2 separate regions of the Homo sapiens genome follow, and region 2 is linked to region 1. The links come from fine-mapping of genetic effects on gene expression. Tissue or cell type: whole blood. Region 1 holds a variant in brackets; the other region holds the start of a gene. All regions are shown on one strand. Distances are between the middles of the regions.

Region 1 (8,108 bases):
TTTAATGGTTGCCTGAATTGTGCCCAGCATTTCCTTTTAAGTTGTTAATTATCTGGAATGTTACTTTTAGTGTGTGAACAAACCTGTCTTTGTTTGTAAGGCTTCATCTTAAATTGGGAGAAATCAGCATTAACAACTCCACAGTTTGGGAAGGTACATATTTAGAAAGGAAATTTAGTTTTAAGCATTTTTATCATCTGTTGATTTAAGGCCTTCTCTCTTATTTTTGCCCTTTTTACACTTTCAGACACGCGTAGGTTGAGCGTTCCTTTCTTCCTGACACGCACAGAGGCTGGCAGAATGGCACATACAAATACATGCAGTTCTTAAGTGCCAAAATCCCCATTTAGTTTTCCTATAGTCTGGAAAAAATCAAAAACTTGTTGGTATTCACAGATGCTATTACTGTATAATTTTTTCAGTCAGTTTTATTTAAGCAGAAATATATTGTCGGTAGCAGTAGATTTAAAACTGGCAGCATCGTTTCTGTGCTTAGAAGTTGGTGCATTCATTGAAGCAAGAGAAAAGGGAAGCATTAGCTGCTCATTAAAATTGAATTCATGGTGGAGGAATTGAAAAGCGTGCCTGTGGTAATCCCTTACCACTCTGCTGACTTGTTTCTTTTTACAATCTTAGTTCAGTTCATTGTCGTTTTCCCTTATATTTTTCTCTAAGTTTGTGATCTTTTATCTTTCTGTCAGAGTATTTTCAGCCAGTGGTCTAACTTAGCATTAGAGTTTTTTAGTTCTAATAAATACGGTTTTTGTTTAAAACACAATGTAAAGTAACATATTTTTGTTTTAAATTGAAGTATATAGGTAAAATCTTTTGTCATATCCTTATATTTCTTTGCAAATCGAGATTTCAGATATCTAAACCTTAGTTAATTCAGGATATAAATTGTGAGTAATCGCTTTCATTTGTACTTCATTCTGTATGTTCAGTTCAGATCCCTTTAACAATTGCTTCTGTTTGATTTTTTTCCTAATTATTCCTCTGTTATGTGGCCTCAGAGAAAGAGAAGAGTTTTATTTTGAGGATGAAGTGAAGGAAAAGGGAATCTTCTACCTTTATTTTTTCCACTAATCATTTGTAAACCCATAGTTCCAGCATCTACTAACTTAGAAGTTTACTTCTCTAACTGGTATAATTACCCTAACTGCTCCAGGTTGTTTACTGTGTTCTCATGAAATAAGGAGACAGTTAATGAGAAAGCAGGATAATTTAGCCATAGAAGGAATATTTGGAGATGGTTGTAGATTATCTAGAGTCAGTACACACCATCTATTGTTTAAGGTTTTTTGCATACTTTATTAAAGTATTTTTATTACTTTTAACAATATTTAAAACAAAAGGATTTTCTGAGTAGACTTGTCTTTAACATGTCTGGATGAAAAGTATAATTCTGCTTCATATCCCTTTTTGTGGGTATGTACTTTTTGTAGTGGGGACTTGCTGGGATAGGTATTAGAATAGATGATCCATTTGCCAATTCTCTGGACTACACAGGAATAACTTTTAATTTAGTTTATTTATATTCTGCTCATTTAGAAAATTTACTATGCCATTTTACTAAAATAACCATTTAGGGTATAAAATACATGTGAGGTGAATTATGTGGTTATATAAGTTGTATCTCAATGAAGCTATTAATTAAACTAAATTTTAAAATGTGGAAATCCAGGCAAAGAAGAGGAATGGCGTTTGTCTTTGTTTTTCAGAGGTTTAGTGTCATTCACCTAGAAATTAGTGCCGCTTTAGAAGTAACTACATTGGAACAAAAAGTACTTTTTTAATATGCTTTCTCTGGATTTTGTCTTAATGGTTTTTCAGTATTATTTTATACACAGCATTTTATTCATTATTGGGCCAATTCTGGAGCTAAATGTAGTGGTAAGATGTATTCAGGAGATTTTATAATTGTTTCTGCGGGAGAACACAGTAGAGCATAAGTAATTGGAAATAAGTAAAGAATAGGCCAGGCGTGGTTGCTCAGGCCTGTAATCCCAGCAATTTAGGAGGCTGAGGTGGGTGGATCACCTGAGGTCAGGACTTTGAGACCAGCCTGGCCAAAATGGTGAAACCCCATCTCTACTAAAAGTACAAAAATTAGCCGGGCATGGTGGCAGGTGCCTGTAATTCCAGCTACTTGGGAGGCTGAGGTAGGAGAATCACTTGAACCCCAGAGGTGGAGGTTGCAATGAGCCGAGATTGTGCCATTGCACTCCAGCCTGGGCAACAAAAGTGAAACTCTGTCTCAAAAAAATAAAAAGACAAGAAGTAAAGAATAAAAATGGCAAGACAAGAGGCAGTGAGAAGAGGTGATGAGTCTTTCTTTTTTTAGAGTTAGTCTACTTTGTGTTCCCTGCTAGTGAGTCTGTGCCTATGGGCTTACATATGGACATAAGTTTGTGTAAGAATTATATTTTGTTCTATCCTAAGTGGCAGCTCTCAAACCTTTTCAGCCAGGGACCCTTTTTAGCATCGCCAATCCTTCTGGCTTGAGAATTTTCTATGTGTTTCTTTAGTCAGGATTTTTTTCCCATTCTCCAGTTTTTAGTGCCCTTTTTCAATATTGTAGACAGTTGTCATTTTAAGCTTTTTTCTTTCCTTTATTAGTACAAATTCAGGTAGTAAAATATTTTAGTAATTCATATTATTAAGTACCAATTTTCTGAATACTACTTTGAGCATTACACAAAGCATGATGTGGCGTGCCATTTACTCTGAGTTCTACTTTACTATTCATTTGTATTTCTATCTCTTATCTGCAGGTATGGCATTTCAAATATAGATACAACCATTGAAGGAACGTCAGATGACCTGACTGTTGTAGATGCAGCTTCACTAAGACGACAGGTATTTAGTGTACCAAATAAGATATATTTCTCAGTTATATTCATACAATATTTTAAAGTGATAGTTCTCAACATTTTATTATTTTCTCTCCTGTGGGACTATCAAACTAGTAAGCCATCATTGATTTTCTCATTTTGATTAAAGATATATTAAACTACCATTTACATGTTTTGATCACCGTAAAACAGTATTACCAAGATAGATTAATGTAATTCTGGCCAGTAACAAAGAATCTTTAGCAAACCAGTACAGCCATCAGTTGCTTGTTTGGCTTTTGAAATGTGGAACAATTACTTTGGAACCTTTGTTACTGTGTTTAATAACTCCATTTTGGAAACCGCTCCTTGCAGCTTGCACAGC[A/G]TCCCTGCATACGTATTTCCTGTATTCTGTAATAAATCCTTTCTTAGAACTGCAGTTGCACATGCATATTTTTTAATATGTACTCCCACAGCCTCGAGTATCACACAGACATACACACATGTGAAGAAGGCATAGTTGGTTTTCTCATTGCGTCTATACCAAATAGATATAGAGGGAAATTGGATTAAATAAGATATTTTTAGGTGAAGATCAGTAGGAGAACACAAGCTTTAGCAGGTGGTTGTTCAGCCCTGGGATTTTCACAGTAAGGGCTAACAGCAAGGATGGTACTGTCAGCCAGCAGCATTTCCAGCAGCTGGGGAATTAGCCTTCAGGCCTGAAGGGTTTGGGTGCCATATCCCAAGGCCCCCTACAGTAGATTATTTTATTGGATTGTCTCAGTAACTCAGAGGTGGACAGAGAAGGCGGTTATGCCAGGTTCAAGATGAACAACTGAGGTTGAGTGACAAGTTCATAGGAGAGGCATAGAAAGGGGAAGGAGTCCCGTATTCTTTCTGCTGTGGTAAGCCTGCCAAAATGCATACTGAGTCTTTTCTGCCAGAATAACAGTAGGTAACCGCTTCCTCACCTCACTATGTAATCAAGTTAGGAAGGAAATACACCCTTCCTAACTCAGAAATCTGAAGAAGGGAAAGGGAAAGGATGTTTAAGTGAATTTAAGCTGTCATGAATGACATGTTTTTCTATGTGTAGTTGTGTTTATTTTGCTCCAAATGAAACTTTCCATGTTTGTAATAATACTTTTGTTGACAAATTATTATACTACTTACTTTATAAGAATCTGATTGCCCTATTCATTAAAGCCTCTATATTATATTTTTTGTGTGTTTGTTTTTCACTTAGATAATCAAACTAAATAGACGTCTACAACTTCTGGAAGAGGAGAACAAAGAACGTGCTAAAAGAGAAATGGTCATGTATTCAATTACTGTAGCTTTCTGGCTGCTTAATAGCTGGCTCTGGTTTCGCCGCTAGAGGTAACATCAGCCCTCAAAAATACTGTCTCAACAGCTGGAAATATAAAAGATTTGCAAACTTCTTTGTTTCTGTCTCTGCATTGTATGCCATTTTATAGTCCACACCCTGAAAATGTATTTCTTCCAGAAAGTCTGGAGGAAGGACCTATATTTGTAGAAGTAAAGGTATATTCTGTCACTCAGCTGTATTCACGTCTGAGCAGTTCTGCAGTAACACCTGCTTAAAATTCTCCCTTTGCATGTTTTGTAAATAGGCTCCAGTTTTGTTTTTTAAAAGGAATTTATTTTTTGCCTCATCAGTCCACCCAACTGATTCTGAATGGGAGAGAGTCTGTAGAGAATTGATTCAGAAAAGTGTCTGTGAAAGAAAAACAATTATTTTGTCCTGTTTCTCAAACAGTGTTAAGCAGTTTTGTTAATAGACATTTTTGCATCGACACTTCAACATTAACACTTTCAAAGTCATGGTCTGGTGCCAGATTTAAGAAACTCGAACCACCTAATATTTCATAACCTTCTTCATTAGGTACTTGTACAGATTAATTTCTAACATTGCAGCAGTTTCATATGTGTGCAATATGTGCATTCTTTCATTTTAGTTTTGCACTTGGTTTTCTATAAAGTACGTTTTTACTCAGTTCATGCGTGAACAATTTAAAAAACGACAGAATAAGGTACAAATGTAGTGTATTTAATAAACTGTCAACCAAAGAAGTATTTGTCTGTTGAAGGATTTTATTTCATCATTTGTGCAATCAGCTACATTTTGTATCATATTACCTTATGAGTCTTCCCGTCTCAGAGCAAGTAATACAATTAATGACCTGGTAGGTAGCAAGAACCTGCTGTGCTTCCTTTCAGACCTTCATCCTGGTGGTGGTGGCTGTTGGTTGCATTGTAGGTGGTTTTCTAATTTATAATATCTATAAAGTGGTTCAGGTTTAAATACCTTGAGTTGTGTATACTTTTTTTTTTTTGAGATGGAGTCTCGCTCTGTTGCTGATGCTGGAGTCCCGTGGCATGATCTCAGCTCACTGCAACCTCCACCTCCCAGGTTCAAGTGATCCTTCTGCCTCAGCCTCCAGAGTAGCTGGGATTACAGGCGCTGGCCACCACACCCAACTAATTTTTGTATTTTTAGTAGATACAGGGTTTCGCCATGTTGGCCAGGCTGGTCTCGAACTCCTGACCTCAGGTGGTCTGCCTGCCTCAGCCTCCCAAAGTGCTGGGATTACAGCCACTGCGCCCAGCCAGAGTTGTATATACTTTTTTCATGGCAGTATTTATTTGCTAATTATATATAGGTGAATTTAAATCTCAAGGCTGGGTGTGGTGGCTCACGCCCGTAATCCTAATACTTTGGGAGGCCTAGGCGGGTGGATCACTTGAAGTCAGGAGTTCGAGACCAGCCTGGCCAATACAGTGAAACCCCATCTCTACCAAAAATACAAAAATTAGCCAGGTGTGGTGGCAGGCATGGTGGCAATAGCTGTAATCCCAGCTACTCAGGAGGCTGAGGCAGAAGAATCACTTGAACCCAGAAGGCAGAGGTTGCAGTAAGCTGAGATCATGCCACTGTACTCCAGCCTGAGTGACAGAGCCAAACTCCGTCTCAAAAAAAAACTAAAAATTTAAAAGTAAATCTCAAAAGAATTAAACCAAGTGAAGCCAAGTGCTAGACAGTTTTAGCTCTCAAAACTTATATTTCCCCATTTTCGGTTCAGAAATGGGTAGAATTCAGTTAGGTGCAACATTCTCCACACATCTTTGGTATCTTTCTTCCAAGGCAGGGAGTTTGGGGAAAGGCAGTTGAGGAAATTCCTTGGATAGAGTTAGATTTAGCATTTCCGTTCTTGCTTCTTATCCCTCTAAAATAATATCAAGACAAAGATTCTTCTCTGTACTTAGAAGTTTTCTGACTTTTGGTAATGATGCAACTATATTAATTCTAGATTTATGTATACCAGAAGGTAATTTCTGTGGTTATCCTCCAAATTGAAATCACAAAAATGAAGAAAAATGATGGATAAGGTTAGTATCTTTTGATAAACAGACATGAAAAGGATTCCACAAAGGTCAAAAAATGAAATAAAAGCAGGAATACTGAGAGAGAAGTGCGGAAGCCCTTTTTTTCCCTCATGATTCTTACCAAAGAATGGACACTTGGAGCTTTCTCCCTTAATGATTGTGCAAGGGGTAGAAGATCGACTTCCCTACCTCAGGCAGGCACCAGCTGTAACAGGAGACTCGTGAATGAAGCTAAGACCCCAACAGACGGTGAATGAAAACTCTGTTTACAGTGCAAAAGGGGACAACCAAGAAACCTGCCTTACCTGACCTTGTCACATATCTAGAAGTAGAAAAGCTTGAATCTCTCTAACTCCAAAGTTAGGATCTCTATTAAACACCTGTGTACTTCCCCTAAAAATTGTTAATTACTGTTGAAATATATTTTGGAGTTGAGAAGAACAAATTAGTTCCTGGTTAGTATAACCAGATATTTGAGCTGAGCCTTTCAACAAGCAGAGAAAGAACAAGAAAATATTCCAGGTGCAGATGATAGAGGGAGAAATGGATACAGTCAGGAGCCAAAGTCGTATCATACAACTAAGTATAGCAAATATATTGTTGCACTACTGAAAGTGCACCCTTCTCCCCACTTCTAGTAATTATGGTTGAAGTATGTGCAGGTTGTTTACACTTTGAAGGATAACATCATGGAAGTAGTATATTTTCAAGAGAGCTTTCCTTTTTCCTTCCTTCCTGCATGAATGTGTGTTTCCAGCTCCTTAACTATAGTGATTGCCCAGCCCTTATCCAAAATTCTTTGGACCAGAAGTATTTTGAATTTCAGAGTTTTTCAGATTTTCAAGTATTTACATATACATAATGAGATATCTTGAGGATGGGACCCAAGTCTAAACATGAAATTCATTTATATTTCATACATACCCTCTACACATAACCTAAAGATAATTTTATACAATATTTCAAATTTTGTGTATGAAACAAAGTTTGTGTATGCTGAACCATCAGAAAGCAAAAAGCAAAGATGTCATAGTGATATCTCAGCCACGCATGTGGACAGTCGGGTTTTTTGCCATCACTATCATTCCTGACTCTGAGTGTATATGCTGCCAATAAACAGTCATTTTTTCTTAACACTTTTTCACACATAAATACTTAACATTAAAAAATGACACACTATTAATACAGTGAAAAAACTGCGTTCAAGTAACTAAGCAGCACAGGGGCATCACCAGATACTGCACCAGCTGTTAGACAACAGCCACAACCAAGAACAGCCACGGCAAGTTTCCTGTCCCCACTGGCGGTACTGTTGGAGTAAAGATTACTGGACACTATTTTTTTCAGTGAGAAGAAACATGAGAAGCAGTTGAGAGGCTAGGAAGTGGATCCTGTGGAGACGAGGCATTCTTCTCAGTGGCTTTTTAAAGTATTTCTTCCAGAGTCATCTACCTCATGAACAATGTTTTTGTCTGAGAAACCTCTCTTTGCTTTTATAAACTGACGTGATTTCTTGTTCTGTTTTGAATACACACTGCTCTAGTCCTTCAAGAAGCCCATCACGTATTTTCACCATATAATCTGTAGGCACTTTTTCTGCAATGTTAATGTCTTCACTATTAGGATCACCTTTGATTCAGAACCGTTCAGCTATTTCACCATGGGTTGATGAACAACTGGAGACCCATCATCGATGTTAAAAACTTCAACATCCACTTCTTCCAGCTTACTGACGGACTCTGAAGGTATATTTTTTACATATATAAGGAGGTCAGACATCATTTTTTTTTCTCACTTGACATAGGGATTCCTTCCAAGTCACCACCTTGTTTATCATCATCACTGAACATAGTTGCAGGCCAG
Region 2 (8,108 bases), 32 kb before region 1:
CCGGCTCTCTCAGCTTGCAGGGAGGTGTGGGGGGAGAGGCGCAGGCAGGAACCAGGGCTGTGTGCAGTGCTCGCAGGCCAGCACGCGTTCCGTGTGGGTGCGGGCTTGGCAGGCCCCACGCTCAAAGTGGCCGGCCAGCACCGCTGGCCCCAGGCAGTGAGGGGCTTAGCACTCAGGCCAGCAGCTGCAGAGGGTGCGCCGGGTCCCCCAGCACTACCAGCCCACCTGCGCCACGCTTGGATTCTCACCGGGCCTCAGCCACCTCCCCACGGGGCAGGGCTCAGGACCTGCAGCTCACCATGCCCGAGCCACCCCCACCATGGGCTCCCTCACAGCCTGAGCCTCCCTGATGGGCACCGCCCCCTGCTCCACGGCGCCTGGTCCCATCGACCGCACAAGAGCTGAGGTGTGCATGTGCGCAGCACGGGACTGGAGGGCAGCTCTGCCCACAGCCCCAGCACAGGATCCACTAGGCAAAGCCAACTGGACTCTAGAGTCAGGTGGGGTCTTGGAGAACTTTTATGTCTAGCTGGAAGATTGTATATGCACCAATCAGCACTCTGTGTCTAGGTCGGGGTTTGTGGATGCACCAATCAGCACTCTGTATCTAGCTAATCTGGTGGGGACTTGGAGAACTTTTACGTCTAGCTAGAGGATTGTAAATGCACCAATCAGCACTCTGTGTCTAGCTCAAGGTTTGTAAACACACCAATCAGTGCTCTGTGTGTAGCTAAAGGTTTGTAAACGCACCAATCAGTGCTCTGTGTCTAGCTAATCCAGTGGGGACTTGGAGAACTTTTATGTCTAGCTAGACGATTGTAGATGCATCAATCAGCACTCTGTCTCTAGCTAAAGGTTTGTAAACATACCAATCAGTGCTCTGTGTCTAGCTAATCTAGTGGGGACTTGGAGAACTTTTATGTCTAGCTAGAGGATTGTAAATGCATCAATCAGCACTCTCTGTCTAGCTAAATGTTTGTAAACGCAACAATCAGTGCTCTGTGTCTAGTAATCTGGTGGGGACTTGGAGAACTTTTATGTCTAGCTGGAGGATTGTAAATGCACCAATCAGCACTCTGTGTCTAGCTCAGGGATTGTAAATGCACCAATCAGCACCCTGTCAAAATGGACCAATCAGCTTTCTGTAAAATGGACCAATCAGCTCTCTGTAAAATGGACCAATCAGCAGGATGTGGGTGGGGGCCAGATAAAGGAATAAAAGCAGGCTGACTGGGCCAGCAGCAGCAACCTGCTGGGGTCCCCTTTCATGTTGTAGAAGCTTTGTTCTTTTGCTCTTTGCAATAAATCTTGCTGCTGCTCACTCTTTGGGTCCACGCTGCCTTTATGAGCTGTAACACTCACCGCGAAGGTCTGCAGCTTCACTCCTGAAGCCAGCAAGACCACAAACCCACCAGGAGGGACAAATAACTCTGGACAGGAGGAATGAACAACTCCAGATGTGCTGCCTTTAAGAGCTGTAACAGTCACCGCAAAGGTCTGCAGCTCCACTCCTGAAGCCAGCAAGACCATGAGCCCACCAGAAGGAAGAAACTCCGGACACATCTGAACATCTGAAGAAACAAACTCCGGACACATGACACACCATCTTTAAGAACTGTAAGACTCACCGCAAGTATTCGCAGCTTCATTCTTGAAGTCGGCGAGACCAAGAACCCACCAATTCCGGACACAGAAGGAAGGAAAACAAAGGGGAAAGCAGATTCTCTACAGAATGTGGATTTTTCCCATAAGAGACTTTGCAGGACAATTTCAAGGTAGGGCAAGGAAAGATATTTTTGGGTAAAATATTTTTATTTTCTTCCTTATTATGCCAGAGTCAGATTGGAAAGTAAGTCATGATATACACGGTTAAATAAAACCCATCTGATGTGCATTTATGGTTTGGAGAACATGACTCCCCAAACCCCTTAGATAGGAATTTGAGCAAGATAAAAAAATCAGAGCTTAGTCCTCAGAACCAACCTAATGCATGATCTCCCAACTTGATCTCTATCTTCCCACAAAAGATTGACTTGGAATGACTTATTATTCCTAAAAATCAATCTATTCTTAAAGGCTTATTTGTCTCTGTAGGGTAGTTGTTAAGAGTTAAAGAAAGAAGAGAGAAACACAAAAAGTGGCTCAACAATCAAGGATAGGTTTATTTTAGAGAATAAACCTGAGAGGGGCTTCTGGCCAATTTTGGTCAGGAGCACTCTCTCTTACAGACTAAGAGTATTTAAGGGTTTAGGGTGAGAGAGCTTATCACAGGCTTGGAATATTTCTGCTTGGAGGAGAAGTTTATTACAGGGTTGGAATGTCTCTGGTTGGAGGGGAGGGGTTATCTTGGGGCTGACATCGCTCCGGTCAGAGGGAAGGTTATCTTGGGGCTGACATCGCTCGGTCAGAGGGAAGGTTATCTTGGGGCTGGCATGTGTCTGGTGGGAGAGGGGTTTATCTTAGAGTTAGAATGTTTCTGGTCGGAGGTGTCATTTGTGGTTTGTGGTCATGCTGACAGCCATTAGGCTGATGCCCTCTGGGTTGGATTTAGGTGGTTTTTGATCAAGGGGCACTTTAAAATGGCAGTGCTTCTGCTCTGTCAATAGTAGGATATGCCAACCCAAAATATGGCACTTTGGCATAAAGATTATTTTCGAGTCAAAGGCACTTAAAAAAAAAATGCAAAAAGAGCACTGTGGCTTTCCTTTTTCCTTCCTGAAAGCAGGAGATAAAACTTCCGTATGAAAGGTGCCCTCCCTGTATAAGGAGGAAGGGAGATGTTCTCAACACCAGAGACATGGAGTCAAAGCTGAGCTGTATCTGCACAAACTTACCGATTTTCATTTCCACTTTGTTACAACAACCTTTATCTTCTTAGTCACTTCTGCATTAACTGCACTAACCCAAATCTGTTTGTTTTCTCACATTTTCACAATTTACTACTCTTTTTAGCCTTCCCTAGAAAAATGGAGACTCAAAAGCACTTAGGGTCCAACTGTTAATTTGGGTCTCCATTTTTCTAGGGAAGGCTCCAATGTAAATGTAAAAATTACTAAATAAAATTTGTATGCTTTCCTCCTGTTATGTTTTATGTCTCTATTTTACGTCAGTGGAGACTAAGCTCTGATTTTTTTTTTAATCTTGCTCAAATTCCTATCTAAGGGGCCTAGGGATTCATGCCCTACAATCCATAAATTCTCATCAGATGGGTTTTATTTAACCCTATATATTGTGACTTACTTTCCAATCTGACACTGGCATAACGAGACAAGAAACAAAATCAAAATATTTTACCGCAAAACATTTTTTTTAGTTTTTGACATATCTTGAAACGGCTCTGCAAAGCTGTCCTTTGTTGGGGGAAAATCTGCATCTACATAGAATTTCTATTAACATAGCTAGATCATTTTCTTCCAGGTCCTCCCAATCCTAAAGAGATTACGTAAGAATCTAGCACCTTTTAAAGATCTGAATAGGAAACATTTGTCATCCATTGTCTCTAAGGGCAGCCACTATAAGACTTCAAAAGAACCTTGGTCTCCACAATCTTTTATTTTAACCTCAACATTTCCTTTCTATGGGTCCCAGGTCTTCAACTGTCAACCAGAAAATGTTTAAATTTACCTACAGCCTTGGAAGCCCCTGCTTTGAGTTGTCCCACCTTTCTGAACCAAACCAATGTAGTTCTTAAATTTATTTGATTGATGTCTCATGCCTCCCTAAAATACATAAAACCAAGCTGCGCCCCAACCACCTTGGACACATGTTCTCAGGACCTCCTGAGGGCTCTGTCACGGGCCATGGTCACTCACATTTGGCTCAGAATAAATCTCTTCAAATATTTTAGAGTTTGACTCTTTTCCTCATCAGTTTAATTCTTAGGCCCAGCCAAGACCCCAAGAGGGGAGAGGAAATATTTTCACTTTCCCTACACCAGTGTTAAGAAGCCCAAGAACGCAATTCAGAGGGCTTCCCAAATCATTTTGAAGAATGGTAACATCTCTAGAATATCAATTAGATCGTAGGGGAGTACATAAGTCATGTGTACACCTTTAGGTGTTTGTGAAAACCAAGGCATATAAAATATCACATTATTTGGCCTCAGTACATTCCCATACTGACAAGCACTGTACCATTTTTCCCCCGCTCTAAGCAAGGGCTTCCTGGGGGGAAGAGTCTGTGGTTGGGTGTTCAGAAGCAGAGAGTGCTCTCCCAAAGCTAAACGATGCCGCCAACTACTGTGAAACTTAACTTCCCCTCTCCCGGAATTCTCATGGAAGACAAGGTCTGATCAACCGAGGGCTTAAGAAGTATCAAATTGGAACTCATGGAATCACTGGCGGAGCTGATTTACATATGAGAATTCCTAAGCCTCACAGCATAGAAATTTTCATGCCAGATGGTCCTGAAAAAGTTGTTTTAATTGGCTACCAAAGGTTTACCTTGCAAACACCAAGTTCTTAAAGATTACAAAATCTAATAAAGCCGAAGTGTGAATTAAACTTAACCGCAAGAGGAGTCACCTGCGGTCACCTCGTTTCGCCCACAACAAAGATGTCTGCGCATCGCTTACCGTGGAGCCGTTCCAGTGCGTGGGCCACGCGTCCGCCCTTTTCCGCGTCACATGACCACGAACACTCTTCCGCTACGGCTCCCAGAAGGGGCCAGCCCGCGCCTTTCGCGCTTCTGCCCTGGCCCTCTGCGGGCCGCTCCGCCGGTGCTGTCCCTGGGCGCCTCCGTGCTCTCAGCCAACCACCTCTGAGAGCGCCCACTCGAGCGCCCCGGGAGCCAGAGGGCGGGGGTCCTCGCCGGGACCCTCCTGTGGGCCCAGGGGTGAGTGTTGACGTCTTCCCGACCCGCGACCTGCCGCCCGAGCTGGCTGCCAGGCCTATCGCCGCCGCCGAGACCCTCCGGCCAACAGGGACCCGCGGTGGCCCCGGCCCCCCCGGTAGTGTCTCCCTGACCCGAGTCCCGTCCCCGGGCCTCTTGCCTTCAACCCTGGTCTTTCCTCCTCCCCGGGACCTTGAGTCCCCGAGGAGAGCGAGGGAGAGGAGCGTCTTCTGCAGGTGTTTTTGGGCGAACCTCTTCACCTTGTGTGGTTCGGCGTCTCCTTTTGTGTATTAACCCGGACTTTTCCGACTGGAAAATAGGGGTTTGGGAAGCAGCGGGAGTCCCGTGAGCGTGAACGCCGGGCTTTGCAGGTCTTCACTCATCCTTCCCTGCCAAGGCCCTGACACCTTACAGGCTGACCTTAAACCTGCCTTGTTTAAAAGGAGGTTTTTGTGTTGTTTTGTGGCAAGTACATTTTGGAAAAGAAGGGCCTTGTTGGAAGCCCAGGTTGTGGCATCGCGGGTGGCTGCGGGCCACCCTGTCCGTCTGTGAGCATCCCTGCTCGCAGATGTGGCTGCAGGCAGTTGCTCTCGGGTTTCCTTCCAGGAGCTGGGAAGCCGGAGGAAAGCTGCGGTTCCTGTTCCGCCGAGCTTCTGACCTTCCTCTGCAGGACGTGTGCTACTATTACTATCGTAAAAGAACACCCCTGTCTACCTCCCACAAAGTTAGAAGCAAAGGGCATTCTCGAGGGAAGAGCACCCTTTCAAAAGTGACATGTTTTCATTGGAGAACATTAAAGGGGAAAAAAAAAAAAAAGGTTTCTGGCCCTTCTGCCCAAATATAGAACCATTTGTATTCAGGCCTCTCATCCACCGAGAGACTTAAGATGATCACAAATGTTTTGTCTCCCTGCGTGAAAAACATTTTTTCTGCCTCAATTCCGTTGGCTAATGAGAGCCCAAAAGAAAAACCCTTAGGAAAATTAGGACGATTTAGTTATACTTAGTAGTCTTTTCCCATGCAATTAAATTGCTTGGGGGACCTTCTATCTTTTGGTTTCAAAGGCTTGTATATTGGTTTTGCCATTTTTTCCAAAAGGAAATTGTGTTCTCTCCCTTCCTGTCTGATAGAGCTGCCTCCTTTCAGAATTGCAAAGTTTAGTCTTCGCTCTCCTCTCTTCTGGTATTGAAACTTTTCTGTGGGTTCATAACCTTATTTTAAAGTTCATTAATATATAGTTTTAAAAGTTTGCAGTGACTTTTTAAATATAGTTTCTTTGAAAAAGAACTGAAACAGGGTGTGCAGAGTGGCCCATCTGTGTGAACTAGGTCCACGCAGTAGGTAATAAACAACTGGAGGGTTTTTTTTGGTTTGTTTTTGTTTGTTTGTATGTTTGTTTTTGAAAAGTACATAAACATTTGCAACCACAGTCAGTTTGACTCAAGTTGTTTCGGTGACTTCCGAGGCTTTCTGGGTTCCAGTGTTCTAATACAGAAAATGAGAAAGTTGGGCTGGAATCATTGTGTCCCAAAATTGGTACACTTTCCGCTAGTGGCATGTGACTTGACTCTAGGCGGTACGTGGATGAGGATTTTTTTGTAATAGGATGTTTTTGCAATCTGTATTTATATATGTACAGCCATGGTTTAAGGTAGTGATACAAAATTTTCTTTTACAATACTTTTTTGATTTTAAAAAGTCGAGTTAAAAAAATTAACTGTAGCAAAAAGTTAATGTACTCTGTGAATATGGGAAAAAAAAAACCCATGAAGTTGGCAAGTTAGTTACTGGTGTTTGGGAACCACTGGGCTTAGAAAGTAGAAATATGAAATCATCTGTGATTCTAAGAGAGATTTTGCCTCGTTTGTTATGTAACAGAATCACGTACTGGTTGCCTACTGGATTCTAAGGTACAAAACTTCTGGAATTAACATATCAACACCAAATGAGACGTTTATTTATTGCCAAAAGATATTATCAGAAATGCCACAGTCTAACGAGGGAGAAAAAAAATCAGATTTTGATTGGTTTTAAGCAGAAAACCCAATAATTGGGATAATACAGTGTTAAATCTTAGTAGAAATCCAGTTACTTTTTAAATGTAAGTAGTTCAGCTACAGGAGAACTTGGCTTTTTCCAGAAGTTGGCATTTCAGCATCCACCTTTATTTTCTAAGTCACTAGTTTTTTACAAACTCAGATATTCTCGTAAGAAAAGATGTTGCTATAGAATGGAATATAGTAGTGAGACCTATGAGATGTACTACTAGAAAGTTCGTAAGACTGAAATGCAATGAATGGAATGCAGAGAAAGCACATTTCAAGGAGATACTGAGGTTCTAGCCACTTGGTTCTCGTTTATTATTATAAAACTTCAATTTATAATGGCCAAAGGCTATAATCTTTTTGAGGTAGCTTTTTTCAGTGTTAGTTCTGAATATGAGCTTTTGCTATGCTTGAGATACACGCAAGTATTAGAAGAGCATCTCATCTGGAATGATGCACAAAAATTGATTATAAAGGTTGCCTGTGGGAACCTGGGTGGTTAAGGATAGGATTGAAAGTGGGACACTTCCTTTTCTCTGTATAGCTTGCGTACTTTGTACCGAGTACATGCATTACTAGTTCAAAATTTTAACATCGTAAGTGAATGAAAATTTAAACAGGCCGGGCACGGTGGCTCACACCTGTAGTCCCAGCACTTTAGGAGACGAAGGCCAGAGGATTTCTTGAGCCTAGGAGTTTGAGATCAGCCTGAACAACATAATAAGACCCTGTCTCAACAAAAAATACAAAAATTAGCTGGGTGTGGTGGCATATGCCTGTAGTCCCAGCTATTCAGGAAGCTCCATTGCAATCTAGCCCGGGTGACAAAAAAAAAAAAAAAAAAAAAAAAACCAATTCATTTGTTCTTCTTTAACATATATGTGTACCTATATGCATATATATACGTAAGTATTAGATTCATTTAAACTTACGTATTTTTCATCTGCCACATTTTTCTAAATACAAATCAGAAACAATGACAGAGCTAGTCTTTTATATTGCCTTAACTAATGAATAGTTGTAGGACCCCATCTGTGGAACTAAGATTGGTGGTAAGCTTAATTTTTTTCTTTCTTTATTTTCTTACTGGTCTCTTGATGTCAGGTTGTGCATCTTTGTGACTGTTACTATTTGGAGAATTTCCAGTAATGAATCCCTAATAGTGGTTTCATCTAGTTTCTCAATTAGCCCCTGTTTTTCTTCCCCAGGGACAAAAGTGGCTCTCAATCCAGC

What was found. PIP is the estimated chance that this variant, and not a neighbour inherited with it, causes the effect.
Region 2: it holds the start of MFF, and the variant in region 1 is fine-mapped to the expression of MFF in whole blood (INTERVAL, PIP 0.99).

Annotation. Positions count from the first base shown.
Region 1 is chr2:227,352,903-227,361,010 of GRCh38, forward strand. It overlaps MFF (mitochondrial fission factor), which reads left to right. Exons shown (of 9, transcript NM_001277062.2): 8 at 2,775-2,859; 9 at 4,084-4,931. The coding sequence ends at 4,215. Among named protein-coding and RNA genes, the nearest start is that of TM4SF20, 22 kb to the right of the region's middle. The variant A/G (reference allele first, on the strand shown) is at 3,220.
Region 2 is chr2:227,320,595-227,328,702 of GRCh38, forward strand. It overlaps MFF (mitochondrial fission factor), which reads left to right and starts at 4,657. Exons shown (of 9, transcript NM_001277062.2): 1 at 4,657-4,833; 2 at 8,084-8,108. It overlaps MFF-DT (MFF divergent transcript), which reads right to left and starts at 4,570. Exons shown (of 14, transcript NR_102371.1): 1 at 4,524-4,570. RefSeq lists enhancers at 212-740, 4,479-4,528 and a silencer at 4,709-4,998.